Linked DNA regions of Homo sapiens: region 2 is linked to region 1. Evidence: fine-mapped expression QTL. Tissue or cell type: whole blood. Region 1 holds a variant in brackets; the other region holds the start of a gene. All regions are shown on one strand. Distances are between the middles of the regions. Region 1 overlaps FBN1 (fibrillin 1). Region 2 holds the start of FBN1 (fibrillin 1).

What was found. PIP is the estimated chance that this variant, and not a neighbour inherited with it, causes the effect.
Region 2: it holds the start of FBN1, and the variant in region 1 is fine-mapped to the expression of FBN1 in whole blood (TOPMed, PIP above 0.99).

The regions. Positions count from the first base shown.
Region 1 is chr15:48,588,992-48,600,272 of GRCh38, forward strand. FBN1 (fibrillin 1) reads right to left here. Exons shown (of 66, transcript NM_000138.5): 5 at 11,148-11,243; 6 at 7,292-7,387. Among named protein-coding and RNA genes, the nearest start is that of FBN1, 51 kb to the right of the region's middle. RefSeq lists an enhancer at 7,088-7,257. The variant A/T (reference allele first, on the strand shown) is at 7,800.
Region 2 is chr15:48,639,252-48,648,891 of GRCh38, forward strand. It overlaps FBN1 (fibrillin 1), which reads right to left and starts at 6,458. Exons shown (of 66, transcript NM_000138.5): 1 at 6,324-6,458; 2 at 5,355-5,699. The coding sequence starts at 5,518. It overlaps FBN1-DT (FBN1 divergent transcript), which reads left to right and starts at 6,554. Exons shown (of 2, transcript NR_183872.1): 1 at 6,554-7,579. RefSeq lists silencers at 5,433-5,482, 5,583-5,712, 6,123-6,302, 6,343-6,422 and enhancers at 6,496-7,020, 6,533-6,622.

The DNA.
Region 1 (11,281 bases):
AGTTTGCACTCCAGCAATTTATCGTGGCAGAAAAAATGCATGAATGTTTTCTGCCAACAAGCTAGGGGCCGCCAAAAAGAAAGCTGATGTGGACTGAGCCTAGCTCCTTTCCCAGATGGCTCCTTGGAGCAGCAAAGAGAACTCAAGAGGCTGGAAGTACCACTGGATGCCCAGCGACTGAGGAAGAAAATGTCAGCAACAGTCAGAACACAGATGCCTCTGCCCCCATTAAAGGAACTATAGGGGAGAAAGTCCAAAACAGACCAGATGATTTCATCTACCAGCAGGAGAAGAAGTAGCCTACAAAGTGGGCCGAGAGGGACAGTGAGTGGGAGACAAAAATCAAGCTTCTTTCTGGTTGCATCCCATCCCCACTGCTTGTTCATACCACATATGTGCAGCCTGCGAGACAGAGGAGCATGTGTGCCCTCAGTGTATACAGTTACCCAGCCACAAAAAAACGAGTGTGTGTGTCAAAAGATGCAATTCCTGGAACTATTCTAGGAAAATCTAGTTTATTCAGTGATCCACCAGCTGCCACAAATGTTGCAATACCACTGTAGACGCACAGTAACATTTAGGGCATTGTGCCCCTGCTATCTACACATTGTTACTTTCTTTTTTTTTTTTTTTTTTTTTTGAGATGGCGTCTCGCTCTGTCGCCCAGGCTGGAGTGCAGTGGCGTGATCTCGGCTCACTGCAAGCTCCACCTCCTGGGTTCACGCCATTCTCCCGCTTCAGCCTCCCGAGTAACTGGGACTATAGGTGCCCACCACCACGCCCGGCTAATTTTGTTTTTCTATTTGTAGTAGAGACAGGGTTTCACAGTAGAGCCAGGATGGTCTCGATCTCCTGACCTCGTGATTCGCCTGCCCCGGCCTCCCAAAGTGCTGGGATTACAGGCGTGAGCCACCACGCCCTGCCACATTGTTACTTTCCATTGAAACTAAATACCAAAAGAGAGGTTCATAGAGGCCTTCAGTGTAGTTTAGTAATGACAGTTTACTGCCTTTTGCTTTTGGAAAGAAGAAAATATACATAGTTCACAGAGCTCTGCCTTCCAAAGGCACATGGAGAATGGGAGTTAGCCTGTGGCATTACCTTGGGAACTTTAGTGATAGCCACCTACAATTTAAAATTATGTAAAATTCGTGTCAGAAATGCAGCTCTGTAAAACTTACTTCTACATAGAGAAAAAATAATAATGAATCTGTATTTTATTAATACCTTCCTGAAAAACACCAGGAGAAAAAAAGCACAGGAAAATCAGCTCCTGATTCCATGAAGCTCTCTAAACAGGTCTTGAGATAAGGTAAAGTTTTTACTTTCTTTTTCGAAGCAGGTGTTTCCAAAATGGACTATCTGATTATTATATATTTGGATAATTACATGTTAGTCCTTTCCATTCACTAGACACAGTATAGATGCTGCCTTTTTGGATTTATATAATATGTGTTTATCAACTGCTTAATGTAGTATTTTTGAAAGTCATTCAATAAAATCATTAGAAAGATATCTGTGCAAAATCATTTTTACATCATCAGAGAAACAAGGTGTGAGGACAAGTTTCTCAAACGTCAACTGCACATATAAGAAGGAGGTGGAATTACAATCAACCTAGCTGTTGTTTGTTCTATTCTGTTTCATTGTTGTGCTAACAAATACAAAAACCTTTTCAGCTTCATTAAGACTGTAATTTCCTAGGAAGCAAGTACCTGCATGAAGAGCTAGTTCACTTTCAACTGTTCTGCTTCTCTAATGAACTAAGGATTATTTCAATCCTCTCATTTTTATTCTACTCCACTTTGGCCCCAATTGTTCCTTTTCCTTAAGGCTATCAGTTCAACAATGCTTTCCCCTATACTTTATCTACTGATAGCCAGCATAACAGCCAACAGACTTTCTTAAGTTGGCAGAAATCCAAGTATTGTCTTCACAGTTTAGACTTGGGTAGGAATTTAACACAGAACAAATGCACCAGGATTTAGAAGAGTCCACGTGCATGCTAATATTCTGAGGATACATGATGAGCAGCTTCAGATGGAGAAATGAGAGAAAACTTCTTGCTATTTGCATTTATGCTTCCAAAAGGCTTCATCCTCTGGCTCACATAAAGTTTGACATTAAAACATTAAACCAATTCCATGTGCTTTATGAACCACATGAGAAAATTATTTTTAGTATTTTTTAAATCTAAGTCTGCTTTTGATCCCAAACAGCTAAAATGTGTGATTACCCACTGTAGTCACTAGAATTAACAGTAAATTACTGTAGGCTGTTTCTGAAAACTCAAATGCCTCCTCAAAAGGGAAAAAAAAAAATCACACACTGATTTGAATGTATTGCTGATTCTGTAAAGGCACCTCCAAAAAAGAGTTCCAAACACATTTTGAGCTGTTGTAATATTACAAGAAAATGATATAACTTTCCATGATAACTGCACTAAATGACAATATTCATTCCATATGTCTACTTCCAGGCATGTTAGTTCAGTCCTTTGGAGCACATTTATATGTCCTGTAAACACACAGGAATCTCTCTCTTTCCAAGAGCAGATTCGTACGTTGAAATCAATCAAATAGAGGAATATTCCAAAACCCTACATTTGAAACATCCAAGAATATGCAAGAATCCTTTCTTTTGCCTTTTCATCTTGACTTCCATTCTAAGATTCATAGTTCTAGGTTTCTTCTTACCGTTCCTCAGAAAAGTCTTTAGAGTTATGAGTGGCCCCTTTCCAGTGAGGTCTTCAGAGTTACGAGTGGCCCCTTTCCAGTGAGGTCTTTAGAGTTATGAGTGGCCCCTTTCCAGTGAGGTCTTTAGAGTTACGAGTGGCCCCTTTCCAGTGAAGTCCAAGTACTACACAGTGGCTATGTGCACAGGCTTAGGAGCCAGAATGTCTAGGTTCAGGCCTCTATTTTACCACTTATAAGCTGTCCCTTCTTGGACAAGGCACTTGATCTCTCTTTGCCTCTGCTTATTCCTCCATAAGATGGGACTTATTACAGGACTTTTCTCATAAGGTTGTTGCAAATCATCAAAGTGAAGTGCTTAGCACACCCCCTGGCACACTGCAAGTACTCAGTACATGTCAGCTGTTCTTACGTCCAATGGCCGCTTTATGATTCTCATTCTCAGACCTTCGATGAGTCTAACAATTGCCAAGTTATTTCTTGAACTCCTTTTTGTTTGTTTGGTTCAATGCTCTCCTGGTTCTCTTGCTGTATCTCTTTGTTTCTCTTCTTCCCTAAGCCTATTCATCATCACACCCCACCCCCATCTCCAAGTTCAGGTCTATCTCCATCATTCTTTTCTCTTTTGACATGACCCTGAAAAGTCTCATCCACTCATATGATTCACTGTGTTTAATACAAAGGCATTTAACAAGATTTTAAATGTGCATTCTGAGGCAAGATGGCAAGAGAAAGGGATTCCACACAGTTTTTTTGTTAGCAGTAACTATGGCAATATACGACTAGCTTGTATTGTCATTGCCAAAACAGGCACTGACCTCACTTCAATAATCTGATAACAAATGCTAACATACTGTACCACTGAGCTAAGAAGTGATTAAGTTCTACTAGTTGCTCAAGGCCCAAGCAAAGAGAAGGCAAAGGGTCGGAGTAGGAGGCAACAAGAAAACCACAAATGTGAACTTACCAAAAAAAAGTGACAGGAAGAAAAATTAAAGAAACTTGTGGTTAAAAAAAATAAAGACACAATCTTTGACAGAGAAAGCAGCAGGAGGTGGCAAACTTGAATGCTCACAAGGGCTAATACCTAAGCTAAATGAATGAACTTGAGCAAGATGTGACAATAGGTAGTGGTGGGGACTATGACAAACTAGAAGATGTATTTAAAGGTATTCCTATTCAGCTTTTAAAAAGTAGACATCACAGGCCAAATAAGCCACAGGTCTCTATTTTTTATCCTCTGGGTGTAGAGAAACAATGGTAGTGGCAATGGTAAAATATATCATTGCTACCTGCCCACTGGGGATGAGGCTGGCCAGCCAAGAATGTTTTTAAACAAACTTATCTTAATGACAAAAAGCTGCAAGTAAGACTAATTGCTTTATAATCTTATTACACTGTTATATGACTATTATGATTCATAATTCAAGCATGAGATCTGCTGCTTCTCTCCATCACAAAACCAAAATACTATGTTCATGGATGATTAAGATTGACTTATTGGCTTAATGTGATACAAATCCTGCCAGTATGACCCCCAAAGGCGTATTTCACACTCATAGTGGGTCTCTGAGGTAGTTATTAATGTATAAAAGTTCCAAGGTCTCCCAGGGACATAGATCTTTATCCTGAGAAGTACTTGTAACTGACATTCTAAATGTTCCCTTACATGTGTATTATATCATGATAAGAGGTTTTTGCTTTTGTTTTTATTGCCACTTAGTTTTGATCAAAACATTCCTCCTTTTTGCATCCCTGTTAACTGAAAAATGACAGTCTTGTGGACCTGAAAGATCATTCTTCTGAAAGATGGGACCAAATTCAATTAGATATCAACATTGTAATCAGCTCTGTTTAGCATGAAACCAATGAAATCAATATCCAGGACTGTTGGCAAACAGCAATTATTTCCAGGAGATACTTGTTCATATCCGATCATTATATCTCCAGATTTTTTGATGCTATTAAATGAATCCAGTTCATCATCTATGGGTCGTGTACTGTGCATCACACAGTAAGGCTAGAATTAAGAAGATGAAGAAACTATAGTTGCTCCTGAAAACTTATGCTCTAGTGAGGGAGATTGGAAACTTGCTGTTTTGATGCAATGCAGTAAATGCTATAAAAAGAGATGTGGAGAGAGTACTAAGGGAAAATGTAGATGAAGGGAGAAAGGAAAGTAGTAAAGGCCTCCCGGATCTGCACTTTAAAAAATAAACATCACATCCCAGTTAAAACAGAATACAACCAACCTAGGTACTTATCCAGTAATAAGCACCACAATAAGTATACCAACCCACCATCGGAAGTCACCCTGAATACTTCCCCACACTTCAGGATGGATCTGTCCTGACTCGGTATCAGATTTTTATTCATCACTCTTGAAATCACGAACATACATCTAAGTAAGAGAATCTACTGCCTCTAATTCTTCAAAGAGGTAAGCAGGTGACTTTCATAAGAGCAGCAAACAGTGAAGACTCTACAAATGGAAATAGAATTCTGGAATCAAAAAGACTCCTCTCTCCCATGTGGTGTGGGAAATGACACCCATGTTTTTCTTCTCCCATTGAAGGTCTGGGACTGTACCCGTGGGTAAAACAGGCAGTGGGTAGATGGCACTACCCTTCTGCTACTAACGGGCAAGCCTGCCTTCTGCTCTCCAGTCTCCACTACCACAAATGCCTGAAAATCTGCCACTTGGGGATGAATTTGATTTTGAAAATCACCACTGGGAAAATTCTATGGAGTCAACAGATATTTACACCTTAGTGCAGATTTCAGGATAGCCCTTTTTCCTGAAGGGGAGCAGTTGAAGACACCCCCAAACTTGGAGAAACCTCTGAGTAACATGCCAGTTTTGATTAGTAGCTTAGTAATTTAACCCATTCAGGACATTTCTTAATCTTGGACAAAGATCAAATCTTTGAAGAAATCACTGTGGAATGGTTCAATATCATGCCCTTTATTTTAGACTGTGTTATCATCAATATCAACTATGAGCATCAATAGTCTTTGCAGCAAATCTTTAACCACTTTGTTAAAATGGTTACAGGTAAAATGTTACAGGTAAAATGCCCTGTAACTTCATCTTATTAGTGATTTTTCTAAAACAAATTATGCCCAGCATTATCATCTGAGAAATTATTTTCACACACCACTCCTCAAGCTACACATTAACAATTTTAATCTCCTACAACTTCCCTGATTAAGTAATAAGGCCACAGAATGATATTGCCTAGAAGAAATAGTTTTTAGTACTCTGGACCATTATAATTATTAGCGAATAAAAACACATCTGTGCAAGTTGTAAAGAGAAGCAGTTTAAGGAGGGACTCCTAAAGGATATCAACATGCAATGTAAAGGTCTATTATGCATTACACATCAATACCATGCAGTGGTCCCATTAATAGAGATACAATGTAATTTACCTAGTAATCAAAGTAATCGACCTGGAATTTCTTGCTCAAATAGGTATTACTGCATTATTAGCAAATAACTGAATTTAGATAAATTATAAACACAGACAGAAAATAATTTCTCACAAACCACTCTCTGCTCTTTGTTTTCCTCTATTACATGTTTTAAATGACATATTCAACATCTGCTACTGAATCTTTACTTTCCATCTTAGAATAAGATGTCTATACAACTTTGGCTAAAAGTGATTACTGCAGTTTAAAAGTTCATGCAAATTTTCAATTACAGTTTTGTGTAACATAAAACTTCTAAACTTTCATTATAAAACTAGGGATGATGAGAAAAAAATCTATAAATGTAGAGACAAGATTATTAGTAAGACCAAAGTTCAGGGAAAAAAACTTAAGAATATTGCATATCCACACATATCTCAATATCATACTTGTATTTTTAGGTAGGCAAATCAGGTAGAATGTTTCTTTTAATTAAGAGCAGCAGTAAACATTAGACTTGAAGAGACAAAACACACATTCAAATTAAAGGTTTCTTATGTATGTGGCCTTGGGGACATCCCTGGACCTCTTTGTGCCTTCATCTTCTCATATGCAAAATTAAGGATAATTCTACACACTCTAGCAGGCTGCGATGAGTACTGAATAAACCATCTACACAAAGTAGCTTCTCAGCAGACACTCAATATATCTATGGTGAGTGTTGAATGCTGAGCTTGTACACCTCTACAGCCCCCAACAGGTCCAACAGATCTTTAGGTGTGCTTTTCATACTGAAATTCTCCCTTTCCATACATATGTTTTGTTCAAGACCACTTAATTCACTGGCATAATAAAGAGCTTAATCCTTACCCTTACAGAAGAAAGTTCTCCCCTTTTTATCCTGATGCCAACTGGTAATTATGTATACACTCATAACTGAGTACCACCAAATTAGCAAATAACTGAATTTAGGTAAACTTGGACTGACAAACATTGCCGAATATCATGCATAGATTCAGGGCCGCTGTCTTGTCATCCTAGGGACCTTCCCAATGACAAATGAGAAATCCCCTCAAAGCTCAGCAACATTCAGGAAGTAGCCATGCAGACCCAATGTCTGTGCAAATTAGTAACAGCTTTAGGTACCAGCATGTCTTTACGTAAATGATTTTAAAAACCATTACCTCTTTCACACTGGGGTCCAGTAAATCCGTAAGTGCATGCACATCGATTTGGGGCCACACACCTTCCTCCATTGAGACAGCCACTTTCACAAACAGCTGTAAAATAAGGAGAGAGCTGAGACGCTTTACCTGAAAATAAATGCTAATGAAGTAACACTTGTGGTCCTCTGGAAGGACAACAATAAAATGTCTAAAGTCACCCTGGTGTTTGTTTTGGACGGTCACTCTACAGTTACACATACTCAGATATTCCTCAGTCCACTCTTAGGTAAAGCTGCCTGGAATAGATGAGTTTGTATCTATGTTAATGCTGATGGTCTCATTCCGTGAAGCATCTGAGCAATGCTTTCAGTTTAACCTCGAAAACAGTGGTTTCTAAGAGATGTCACTGAATGGGAACTGTGTGTTAGCAAAGACTCTTTTGCTTATGATTTACGTTTAATTGCAACAGGGCTCCCATGAGGGGAAATATCAGCCCCTCTGATGTCACCATTACAGAAATGTAGCA[A/T]GTTCAATTGCACAATTAACTGCAAACAACAAAATACTACTAATGATCTTCAGTAATTTAAGTACCATAATGAAAATCCAATTGAGAGTTATAACAGAACTTACGGAAACTATTGGTGCAGTAAATCTAGAGATGCTTCAGGGCAGGATATTTTGCTTGTTAGAAATGACATTAAAATAAGAATTGAAAGTTCATGTGCTGAACAACTCCTCTTTGTACAAGTTCCTGTAACTCGTGCATGCATGGGCTCTTTCTAGGCATCTTCGTCATGCGTGGCAGGCTCTTCTCTGCCAAATATGTCAGTTCCACCCACTCTTCAAAGCCCAGCTGAAATCTTACTGCTCCATGAGGCTCCCCCAAAACCTCCATTCAAATTCCTTGCTCCTTATATATTTTCTATACATTTTTCCATACATTACCCTATAGCAGCCATGAAGTTGAGCCACTCATACTTTCCCTCAAGAGAATCTCCTGCAAGTTTAGCTGGCAGACCACTTCCAGCTGCTGTACCTTCAGATCTGCTGCAATGTTCATGTCAAGGGCAGGCTCACAGCCAATGACTAAACACAGCATTAGGATACTAAAGCCTGGCTATTTCCACCCATCATGGAACTCTTTGATGGGCACTTTTTGCCCTGGGTTCTCCATCAACCTGGCTATGGCTTTTTGGAGCTGCACTACAGGCTGAAGTTCCTTCTATGCAATTGTCCTTCCTTCCCTCCCTCCTTGCACAGGATCAGACAGGCATCATGGTCTGAAGACCATTCCCTCCTACTTCTGCTTCCTCTTTCCTTTATTCTTCACGGGTCTTTTCCCCAATAAATTCTCTTTTATGTCTAATTCTGTCTTGATATTTTCTTGGCATAAGAGGACCTGAACTGACACAACCCTTTTTAACCAAAAATTATGGCAGGAGGCCATTACTCATCATATAACCAGAGAGGTTTATGTAAATTAATTGTCTTCTTTGCCTCTTGATTTATAGTCAGGGAGAATGAAGAGCTTCTAAACAGAAAAGAAATTTTGAGCTTGCCTAAGCCAACCCTCCCAGATTACAGATGAGGAAGCTGAAGTTTAGGAAAAGTTTTCTAATTCTGCCAGTGTTAATTAAGCACTTGTGTGTTGGGCATTGGGCTAAACTCCCTCAGGGAGCACCAAGGGGAGCAGAAGAGATGCCCAGCAGCCCCTCCTGATTCTCCTGGAATGCCTTGGGATCCAGCCCCATCTCGCCATCTCCACAGCCATAGCCTTAGTTAGGACTTGTCTTCCTGCTCCTGTTTTGTCCTCCTCCAGTTGCGCTTCCACACTGTGATCTTTCTCACTGTAAACCTTCGTAAGTGAAGGGTAATAAGGTTGGTATTTCACAAGAGTAAACACATGGGCTATGGAGTCAGACTGCTTGGGTTCCAACCCCAACTCTGCCGATTACCATCTATATACCCTTAGAGGAACTACTGAGGTCCCTGTGTTCCAGTTCCCTCATCTGCCAGAGGGTAACATTTATGTCCTCTAATACAAAGAGTTGTTGTCATATTAAATGAGTTAACACACATAGAGTTCTAAAATGTGCCTAGCACACAGTAAGCACAGAGTAACTGAAAAGATGTAGGTTATTGATGTTGTTAGTGTTGTTTATTGTTGTGGTCTCACTCTTCTTTCCTAGCCCTACTTTGGAAGAAAACATAGTATGTATAAAGGCATCAAAACCTGGCCCATGACATCCTATCTGACCTTACTTCCTTTCCCCTCACTCTCCTCTGCATTTAAGCTCTAGCAACACCAAAGCACTTGCTATGTCCCACATCCCTTGCTGTGTCTTGTGCTGGTGCTTTGGTCATGCTCTACCATCTGCCCAAAAAGGTCCATTCCCCATCACCTGACAGGTAAGCTCCTACCCATCCCTCAAGACTCAGCCCAAGGATCACCCACACTGCGGAGGCTGCCTCTCCTCTCTCCAGGCTGGGCTACACAAAACTCAACCAATATTCTTCTCCCACTGCAGTGTGTGGATGGTGATACAGTTTGGCTGTGTCACCACCCAAATCTCATCTTGAATTCTCATATGTTGTGGGAGGTGGGAAGTAATTGAATCATGGGGGCAGGTCTCTTTCCCATGCTGTTCCCATAACAGTAAGTCTCACAAGATCTGATGGTTATCATAAGGGGGAGTTTTCCTGCACAAGCTCTTTCTGCCTGCTGCCATCCATGTAAGACGTGACTTGTTGCTCCCTGCCTTCCACCATGATTATGAAGCCTCCCCAGCCATGTGGAACTGTAAGTCCAATAAACCTCTTTCTTTTATAAATTGGCCAGTCTTGGGTATGTCTTTATCAGCAGCATGAAAACAGACTAACACAGATGGTCACTAGGGCATTCTCTACATTTTTGTTTATTTATAATAACATTATTAATCCTAATAAATATATACACAAAAGCAAAAATTAGAAACGCCCTGAATAACGCCCACCATTGAGGATTCATTAAATAAACAGTCAAACATCCAGGTAATAGAGTACTAGGCAACCATTAAAATGTATTTTAAAATGTGTAATGAGCATACTTTGAATAAAGTATTAAGTGAAAAAGTGGTACAAAAACTATATATACAGTAAGAACTCATGTACCAAATATGCATTACAAGTCTAGAAGATACTATCTGGAATGATGAAATCACGAATAATTTTACTTTTTGTATTTTTAAACTTTTCCAAATTTTCTGTAGGGTATATATGCTCATCTTAAAGTAACAAAAAAAAAAAACAAGGTTTTTAAAAAGAATGTTCGTCTTCTGCAAAGCACAGGGACTGGTAGAAAGTAGATACAATAAATGGTGTGTGCAAATGAACCTTCAAACTGAACACCATGTGATAAGTACTTCGGTAGCAGAATCTAGATTAGGAAATGAGAGGGATGCAGATACCACCAATCAAGATAAAGGACATGTTTAGAGAGAATGATGAGGCTGAGTTTTGAAATACTTTATTTGAGATGCTTCCTGAAAATCCAAGTGTTGAAGTTCAGCAAGTGGGTGGAAGGTATGTGTCTGGAATGAACAAGAATTCTGCTCCTTTGGTGGTGACTAGAAATCAAGGAGATCAGGCAAGCAAGGTGGTGAAGGTAAATGAGAGGAAAATGAATCAAACAACCTGTAACCAATCAAGGTTCCAATTGGAAATTTGGTGTTAAGTTTTTTGAGTAAGTGATTTGTTCATCTGTAAAGGTCACTGGACACTTGTAAACATGCTGTGTCCCAGGTAATCGAAGAAAATCCATCAGCACTTATCTCTTTATTCTACTTGTCTACAAACAGGTTAACATCTAGAATACTTATAACTACAGTGTACTTACGTTGTCCACAGTGAGTCCCTATGTATCCTTTCTGGCATAGACAGTGATCGTCACTGCAGCTACCTCCATTCATACAGCGAATATTGCAGTGTTGTACTTGAAAAAAAAGAAGAAGAATTCACTTTTGCAACTTA
Region 2 (9,640 bases), 49 kb after region 1:
TGTGAAGGGAAGCTTATGAAAGCACCCAGCTTGTAGAGTGGCTATGAGGATTCAATGAATTATCATATGCAAAACAGTAAGAACAGTGCTTAGCAACATATAGTGCTTAGTAACATATAGATGTTACCTAAATGTTACCTACCATGGCTGCAATTGTTATTATGTATTTGTTTAGACTTAATACCAGACCCCCTTTCCAGGGACGCTGTCCTTCTGTGCACTCACGGTTCCTGAAGTACCCCCAGGGTTATGGGGTATATGTCTCTGGCCTTCCACAGAACTAAACTCAAGCTAGCATTCAATCAAGACTTCCTGAATTAATGAACTTTCTGAAACCCCACTTAATGATGAGTTAGTGGTAAAATGCTTATAATAGGATTCTTGTCTTCAATGATTTAACTATCTAATGAGAAAATCGACTTGAACAATCATGAAACGCTAAACTATCATGTGCCTGAGTTAGGCCACATAACTCAGGCCTGATATATTATTGATGTCGGTTTCTTCAAAGAATCTCATGGGAAAAAATTCTAAGTTGCTTAAGCAGGCCCATTTGCTGGGTTCATGTTTAAAAACAAAGAAATTGTTAAAAGAATGTATTTCTCTTTCAAGAAAACATTTGTAAAATCTTATTTTCACATTGAAAATAAAGCTAAAACTCCCAAAGTGGTTAGGCTGATTGGCTTACTGGAAGAAAAAGCCAACAAACTGGTACATGAATACTCTAATAATTTTTTAGTATTTTGCTTGATTAGAGTCATCAGTATAATACTATAATTTTTAAAGTATATGCTACACAAGACGATAAAGGAACATTTTAATATTCTTTAAAATTCCAAATAAGGTTGAAGGGAAGTCTGTACTCCATTTCCATCAGCTCTCATCTCATTTCACCATAGGCTGATGTATGTTTTAATTAATTTGTATTACCAACTTACACATTTTTATAAACAACCTCTATGTCTTCAATGTTACAAAATGAGTCACATAAATAAATATTTTGTCTCTACCTTCTTGTTTCATGTGTGGAATTGCTGAAATCTTCTATTTAAGAACACTATATCCTTTTTTAAAAAAAAATTGTGTCCCAATATTTTAGCTTAATCTTTTCAATAAATGTAAACCATACCCCTGCAGGAGTCTTTCCCCATATTTAATTATTAGCCCATCTGACTTCAGGTGAAGTCTTAAAGTCCCCTTTATAAAGTAAAATGGACTTTATAAAGTCTACAGAACTTTTTCTGTATTCCCTATTACAGTTCTTTATTTTAATAACAGACTTCTACATAACTAATCCCTTGGAGTTTGCCATCACATAATCTACCATGGGTATGAACTGTTCCATGTGTATTTTTCTGGCAACAAGACCTCTGGAAAAAAATAAACAAATAAACAAAGACCAAAAGGAATCACACACAAGGGGACAAATTGTGTCAAATACAACTGGTCTCATGTACCTATAAACCACACAACAAGGGCAGAAGTCTCAATCCATCTTCTCCAAGGTTTGGGAAAGGAGATCTCACTGTGAAGAACTTTTCCCCCTTTGACAGGAAACAGTAATATTTCCTTACTTGGGAGCTAAAGCAATAAGGCAATCATAAATAAATGGTGCATAACTATTGCTATTCAAGTACAGTTGAGTTTTTTTTTTTTGGACTGTCTCCCACACTTTTTGCCTAATCACCATTTAGAGTTTAGCTGAGAAAAATTCCCATGAATTGAAAGTCAAACAAATAGCGTTATGATTTTATTATTTTTCATAAACCCATTTCACATATCAAGCAATGCCCAAGGAAAAGAAAACTACTATACATTTATTATTTCACGTGGTTTTGAAACTTGAACAAATCTCATTTGAAAATAGAGAAAAATGCAATTTTTGCAGAGTAGATGGGGACCACACTGATTCCATTTTTAAAAAAGGATTTCCTGTAAAAACAGAAATTGGCAATTTACTCTAAGAAAACACAGCAGAAGCTGGGAAGAAACTTGAGGATGCCTAAATTTCCACTGTGGAACAACTTTTGCTGCCCAGTGGGGAGAGAATAAAAAAAAAAAAGAACACCTGCAACAGGGGGGGAGGAGAGGAAGACAAGCTGGGACTGCACATCCAGTGAGCAGAAAATGAGGCAGTTTTCTAATCTAGGAAGAGAGGGAGCTGACAAGAAAGGAATATATATGCATTTGAAGAATACCAAGGCGGATTTTGTAGTCACCTGCCACATCAGAGAAAAACAAGAAGGCAGTATTTGCTGGGGAGAAGGAACCAGTGCACAGCAGATACTGATGAGTTTAAGGTACCTTTTAACTAGAGGAAAGATTAGTGAGGTGCTGAAAGTTGCTGCCACCAACTGGGCATCAGGCAGACTCGGGGGTTACAAATCACTTTCACTTCATAAACTGTGCATCTCCAATCAGAATGGTAAACAGGTTTCACTGTAGTCAAAGAGGTGAGTTTTGAAGCCGGTAATATTTTAACAGACAAAAACAGAAATTTTAAGCAATAACTGGAAAAATGTAGTACATAACTGCTTTTTCTGATGATTTATACAGCAGGGCACCGTTAAAGGATTTATTCATATGAGACTGTAACGGCAATAAGCAGAGGGAATAAATTTAAAATGTTATTCAAATTTAACATAAGAATTGGGGTTTGCTTAAAATCTATGGGAAAGACTTTGATCCAGCAATTCTATTTTTACTAATTTATACCACATATAAACACGTGTATGTAAACACAGGTATGCAGAAGAAAGTTGGTAATAGCAAAAGACTCAATGTAATCTAAAGAGCCATCACTAGGGAACTGTTCCAGTGACATAATGAGGTTCTATACAACAAGAAAATGGGGTAGGGCGCAGTGGCTCAAGCCTGTAATTTGGAGAGGCAGAGGTGGGTGGATCGCTTGAGGCCAAGAGTTTGAGACCATCCTGGCCAACATGGCGAAACCCCATCTCTACTAAAAATACAAAAAATTAGCCGGGCTTGGTGGCACCCACCTGTAATCCCAGCTACTCTGGAGGCTGAGGCAGGAGAATCGCTTGAGCCGGGAAGGTGGAGGCAGTAAGCCAAGATTGCACCACTACACTCCAGCCTGGGCAACAGAGCAAGACTGTGTCTCAAAAAAAAAGAAAGAAAATGAATGAGGTAGATCCATATGAGTTAATAGATGGATGCATTAAAGATACATAAAAAGTAAGTAAAGTTCAGAATATTGCATGTACAATACATTCCATGTATTAAAAAGGATACACACACACATGTGTATGTATACATATATATTTGTGTTTATTTGTACATGTATACATATGCCTAAAAGATTTATAGAAAAATACACAAGAAAATGGTCTCTGAAAGGTGGCAGGGAAATACTTTTAATTGTATATATTTTTAAATTATTATTTTCACCCCCGTGTATGTGTGTGTGTGTGTGTGTGTGTATATATATATATCACTTATTATAAAATCTTATAATTAACATGAGAATTAGGAACACACATAATTACAATTCTATTAATACCCTGTTTTTAGGAAGGCTTTATAAATAGTTTACAATAGGATAAGGTCTGTGTTAATGATCAAATACTGTGAGGAGCACAGAGAGGTATCTCTCTATAATCACAAACAAATTTAAAACCAGAGAGAAAAAGCACAAGTGTGAGTAAAAGTGTGGCATCCTGTTAAGCAACAAAGTAAAGCTTAGTTTCTTTTTTCACATTCCCAAGGGAACACACTAGTTGGTGACAGCCCAGAGAAATGAGACAAATGTCTGACCAGGCCTCACACCTCTCTGCAGATCTTCAGCCACAGAATTAAATCCCCACGTCCTTTATATACAGGAGCAATCCTATCAGAATAGATATTAAGATATTATTATGTAGGAGAAATGTATTTTTGAAGGAAAAATACTGGACTAAATGAGGTCCTCTTGAGAACATATGAAAATCAGAGCCTCAGTCTACTTATTGAACTTGCCATGTGCCTTGCACACAGGGCAATAAACATCTGCTGTCTGATCAAGGTCAGGTTTACCATGATAAGCAAACTTCCTTCCAACATTATCGGAATTCTGGGTTTATTTTCCACGAAGGCCAAGATGGAACCGAATTAATCATAACTATTTTCTGTGCTATTTTATCACAGCCTAAGTGCTTGGCTCATACAATCATCTTGTCCTTACTCCAGACTAGGAGTCAAAAACTGGTCTGGTGAGTTTACTTTTTCTTCTCATATCTGGGCCATACAAACACAAATTTTACTACATATACATGACTATAACACCTCATAACAAAAAAAGAGTAAGTGAAATGAACAGCCACATATCCAAGTGGATACCATCACTTGGTGACCCAGAGCTATATAATAAAGCTACAGAACCACTCAGGAAAAGAGCATCAGCGAGAATGGTAAGAATTTAATACAAAATCTCCCTATATATACTGTCTGAATTTATTTAACAGGCTCCTCCAAGAAGATAAAAGGGGTCACTGACAGTCCATCCTGTTGTTTCCATGGAGGCTTTAACTTAAACAACTGCAGACAAATTTCTCTTAAAGGAAATGTATTCCCACTGTCCTTCAATACAGGAAAATGACAACCCTTAGTCAAGTCTAATTAAAATTTTTCCGGCTGAAACATCTGTAACAGCGGCATGGGAAGCCAGTGAAATGGTCAGTTGCATGTACACAACACAAACACCACTAGTTAAAAATACTCCCTTAAGGCCGGCCACAGCAGCCTTACTGCTGCAGTGAAACGGAGAGCCCCACACAACTCAAAAAACCAGTTCTCAGAACCACTTGCCCTGTTCTGCTTCCAATGTAGACATCTAAAGGAAGCATTGCCCAGAAAACCCAATCCGTAATTTTAATAAGCATAATTTACGGAAGAGTCAACTACTGTGTGATTTCTCCTCTGACTGTCATGGGAATCCCTTCCTTTCCTTGCCCCCTTTCAAATACAGCATCTACCAAGATGACCCCAAGGAAAGTACTTTCCTCTAGAAACAACCAGAATTGATATTGCAGGGAAAGGAACGGGCTTCTCCTCTTATCCCACTCGCAACTCCTCCCCTTCTTCCCCAAGGAACTCTTCTCGCCTCCCAAAATCTGCCTCAACAATGGCCCAAGATTCCATTTAACCACGTCCTCTCCTTTGGGGCAGAAATCTCTGGGAGTAGGGGCAAGGTAGTTTAACCACGAACGGGGTGGGGACTAAACAACCCTAGCACCTCTAAGGTGCCCCCAGGAGGTCTTGCCAAGGAGTCTTCCACAGGGAGAGTCATCCTGCCCGTTGTTCTGGATCTTGAAACTTGGGAGACCCACACCAAAGGAGGGAACCGGTTCCTTTACCCTTTAAGCGCGTCGTGTCCTCCACCGCCTCTTCTCTTGGCCCGACTGGCTCTGGTTTCCTTCACGTTCCCAGCCTCCAAATTGGCGTCCGCCCCATGGCTCGTGTAGGACGCTAAAAGCACGGTAAATCCCAGGGCGATCTCCAGCAGACGCCCTCGACGCATGATGCCGAGCCGCCACCGGCTCCCGCCGCCTCTTGCCGCGCCCGGGGCTCGGTCTGCGGCCGCCGCTGCGCCCTGAAGCGCACCGCGCCGCCGGGGTCCCGCTATCCCGCCGCCCGTCCCCCGGGCCGGGCTCCTCCCGCCTTCTCCAGGCGCTGCTCCCACTTCAGGCGGCCCCTGCCAGCTGCAACACAGAGACAAATCCCCGAGGCGGGGAGACTTTCAGGGCATCGGGATGCTGAAGCCTCGCGGTCCCCATTCCCAAGCCCAACCCGTGCGCCGCCTGCGCGTGGCGCAGTTAATTTGGGTAAGGGAAGACCGTTTGGTCCACAGCTGGCTGGAAAGCCCAGGCCCCCGGCGGCAGCAGCCCCGGCCGATCCCTCGGCCTCCCGGGCCCCGCCAGAAGAGCGCGGCGCAAAGTACCCATATCCCCAGCGGTCCTAAGCCCCGGGCGAGCTCTCTGGGTTTATTTTTTTTAGCGGCACGAATTGCGCGCGATGCGCGCTCTGAACGCCCCACTCCTCAGCCTGCCCTCTCCGCCAGGCTGGAAGCCAGCCGCGCCGTCCCCGCCGACTCCGGGCGATGCCACCGCCCCCCGAACATCTGACGCGGAGCCCGGCACCAAGAGCCCCGGGCCAGGAAGCTGTCAGGCAGGGGAGGGCCAGCGCCAGCTGTGGACGTTCCGGGACAGCCCCTCACCCCAGTCCCTGTCCCTGCCCTCGGCGCGGCGCAAACGCAAAAGCCTCCGTGGCCGCAGCTCCAGCCCCGGTGGCCGCCCGACCCCCGTCGGGACCCCGGCTGCACCCACTGGAGAAGCGGCGGCTCCGACTCCCGAGGAGGCGGCGGCGGCTGCTCCCAGTCGTGGCCGCTACAGCCACTGCTCGGCTCCGCTCGCAGCTGTCCCAGCTGTGGCTCCTGTCCGCTTGTGGCACCCACAGTCTCTGCCGCGGCTCCCGCAGCCCCCTCCTTTCCCCACCTCTTCAAGTATCGTCCGCGCAGCGGTTTCTCGCGAGAGAAATACTTTTTTTAAAAAAAGAAAGAAAAAGAAAATGACACCCCCTCCTTCGTCGCCCTCATCACCACCCCACCCCCCGGCCCCATCCATCCTCCCTTTCCACTCCCCTTTGCCAGCCTCCGCCTCGGTGCGGGGCCTCTCGCTCGCAGGATTAGCGCAGTGGGAGGAGGCAGAGGTGATCAGGTCCTGCCCGGCCTGGGACTTTTTGTCTTGAGGTGGGGAGGGGAGAAATGGGAAGAGGTGGAGTAGCGGTTTTAGCCCGCTCTGCGGCTGCGAGGTTTAGATCCGAGATTAACCTCTCCCGCGATAGGTGAAGCCCTACCGGAGCAGAAAGCTGTTCCACCTGCACCAAGAATGCGCGCTGGAGACGGTTGCCCCGGAGGCCCTGGCCCGAGAGAAAACCAGTCCCCGCTGCCCGCGCCTCCCGGTAGCGCGCTCCCTGCGCCTCTCCCGCCGGACACTCAGCAGACGCCGGAGGCCGGGAGGCTAAGACTGGGCGCGTCGCAGGCCGGGACCGCGGCAGAGGCTGCTGTGCCGACCGAGGAGAGGGCTCTGCCGCCCCCACTTGCCCTGGGTGTCGAGAGCCCACTCCAGACGCGGCTCTTCTGAGGCTCAATTCAAGCCACCCAGGCCTGAATCCAGGGTGCTCTCTCTAAGTCGGTGTCCAACCCAGGGGCCTGTAAATGTTGGAACCTAGGATGTAGGATGGGAGCGGTGAAGGGATGGTCCTCTTGCCCAGCCCAGATTAAGACTGGGGTTCATCTGGAGGACTCTACTTACACCCTCCCGGTCCCCTCGCCCTCCCCCACACACAGCTGCCTCTCCCCAGGATATGCGCGGCACAGTGAATTTAGTGGCTTTGAAAGGTATAGTATTTGTGGCATCCTTATATGGATAATGCCCAATGATGCCTGCACCCTGTAACAGTTTAGGAAGGCCTGAAGTCGCACACTGGGTCCTGGCTGCTGTAACTGGAGACCCCCAGAAGATCCCCTGCAAGCAGCCACCAGCCTGCTGTCAAGCCAATAATAAAAGCTCAGCACAAACAGGTACCCTGGGAATGTATCTTGTTGAAAGGGATTTTCCTTATTTGTAACCGTTTGTAAAGGGGCCCAGACAGTAGGGTAGAGAGACCTGGGCAAGTTATTCAACTTCTTTCCAAATACAAGATGGGACTTGTAGTGTCCACCACACAGGGTTGTAATGGTGATGATGGACATGCTGAACTGCTGTGATACATGAAGATGAAACAGAAAAACTGTGGGAACTATGAGCTGATCTAAAGCCATAGTCCTGTAAGTATGTATGTGGTGTACTTTAAGGTCTCACCTGCAAAAGGTCTCTTAGCAGATTCATGAATGAGAGCCTTGGTCACACACTCCTGGCTGAGTAAAGGAGATCATTCATTCAAGATGTTTTTACTGAGCACGAACTGTGTACTACTTAGTGCATTGTTGAACTAGACTTCAACAATTTTAACAAGGCAGGTTCAACAATTTGAACACGACTGACTTCAACAATTTAGTGAAAAGGGCAGAAATGTGTCTCCCCTCACACAGCAGGTAGTCAACAAGGAAAGGCAGACTTGAAACAAATAATGGACCAATTGTTAAGCGCCAAACAGGATAAGTACTGGGTGCTTGCTTGGAGGATATATAACAAGGGGACTTGACCTAGGCTAGGGCTGATCAGGAAAGGGATCCCTGAGGAAGTGATATTTAACTTAAGTCTAAAACATAACTAGACTCTACTTAGGATAGCAGTTCTCAACCCTGGCTATGCAGTAAAATAATAAGAGGCTTTAAAAAAATTCTGACACCAGGATGGGCATGGTGGCTCATGCCTGGGCCTGTAATCCCAGCACTTTGGGAGACCAAGGCGGGTGGATCACTTTAGACCAGTAGTTCAATAGCAGCCCGACCAACATTGTGAAACCCTGTCTCTACTAAAAATACAAAAATTAGCCAGGTGTGGTGGTGCATGCCTGTAAATCTTGCTACTCAGGAGGCTGAGGCACTAGAATCGCTTGAACCTGAGAGGTAGAGATTGCAGTGAGAGGAGATTGTGCCACTGCACTACAGCCTGGGCAGAACAGAGTGAAACTCTGCCTCAAAAAAAAAAAAAAAAAAAAAAAATCTGACACTGACACCAGGCCCCAACACCCAGAGTTTCTGATTTGAGTAGTCTGTAGTGGATTCTTCACATGGATATTTTTTAAAGCTCCCTGGGTAGGGAGGGGTAAGGAGGTAATTCACACTGGGAAAAGGATCTGAGCAGAGGGACCATGGATTAGGAGAAAGCAGGGCTGTTGGACATCCAGAAAGGCCTTGTCCTGCCCACCAGTTTTCTGGGCTGCTCTGCACCCACAGGGGACTCTGGAAACTGCATGCTTTCCTTGTACTCCAGCAGCATGCAAGACATGCTGTGCCCTTTCTCTCAGAATCTTACACTCAGTGACATGTTGGTCAGCAGCAACCAAACACAAGCCTTTTCTAAGGCTTCTGCCCAGGAAGTAAAGGCCAAATCCTGGTGCCCTGCAAGTCCCCTCTTCCAACATTTCTGGACATTTCTATTATTTCTAACTCAAACTGCCTTCCAGGGTTTCACCTCCAAGGGAGGGATTTGGATTAAACGTTTTTACCTGGCCTTTGCTTTCCCCGGCAACCTCCTCTTTATTCATTGGCCTCTTTCTCCAATAAAGGAAAGATTCTTCCTTCATATTGGGTGGCAGCTCCAAGCCATATACTCCCCTCTTTGAGCAATAAGTCTCATGTTCTGACCACAATGGTGGAAGATTACAGGGGAAGGGGAAGCAGGGGGAACTTGATTACTTAAAAGTAAATACATTTTAAATATACAAGAACTATTCCCGCTATCTAGGCAATCAACATGTATTAGAGTAGCATGCTACTTATGACAAAATTCAGTAACGAATAATAAAAATCTGTGTCTTTGCAATAAGATTTTCTTGATGCCAGATGATTGAGGACCCAACTCTCCTTAAACCTATCACAGACTTTTTTTTTTTTTTTCGTAATAGGTTGTTTTGCACTGTTTGCAAATTAAGTCCATGGGCTAGAATTCCTTGCTTCCATCTCCTTATTTCAAAG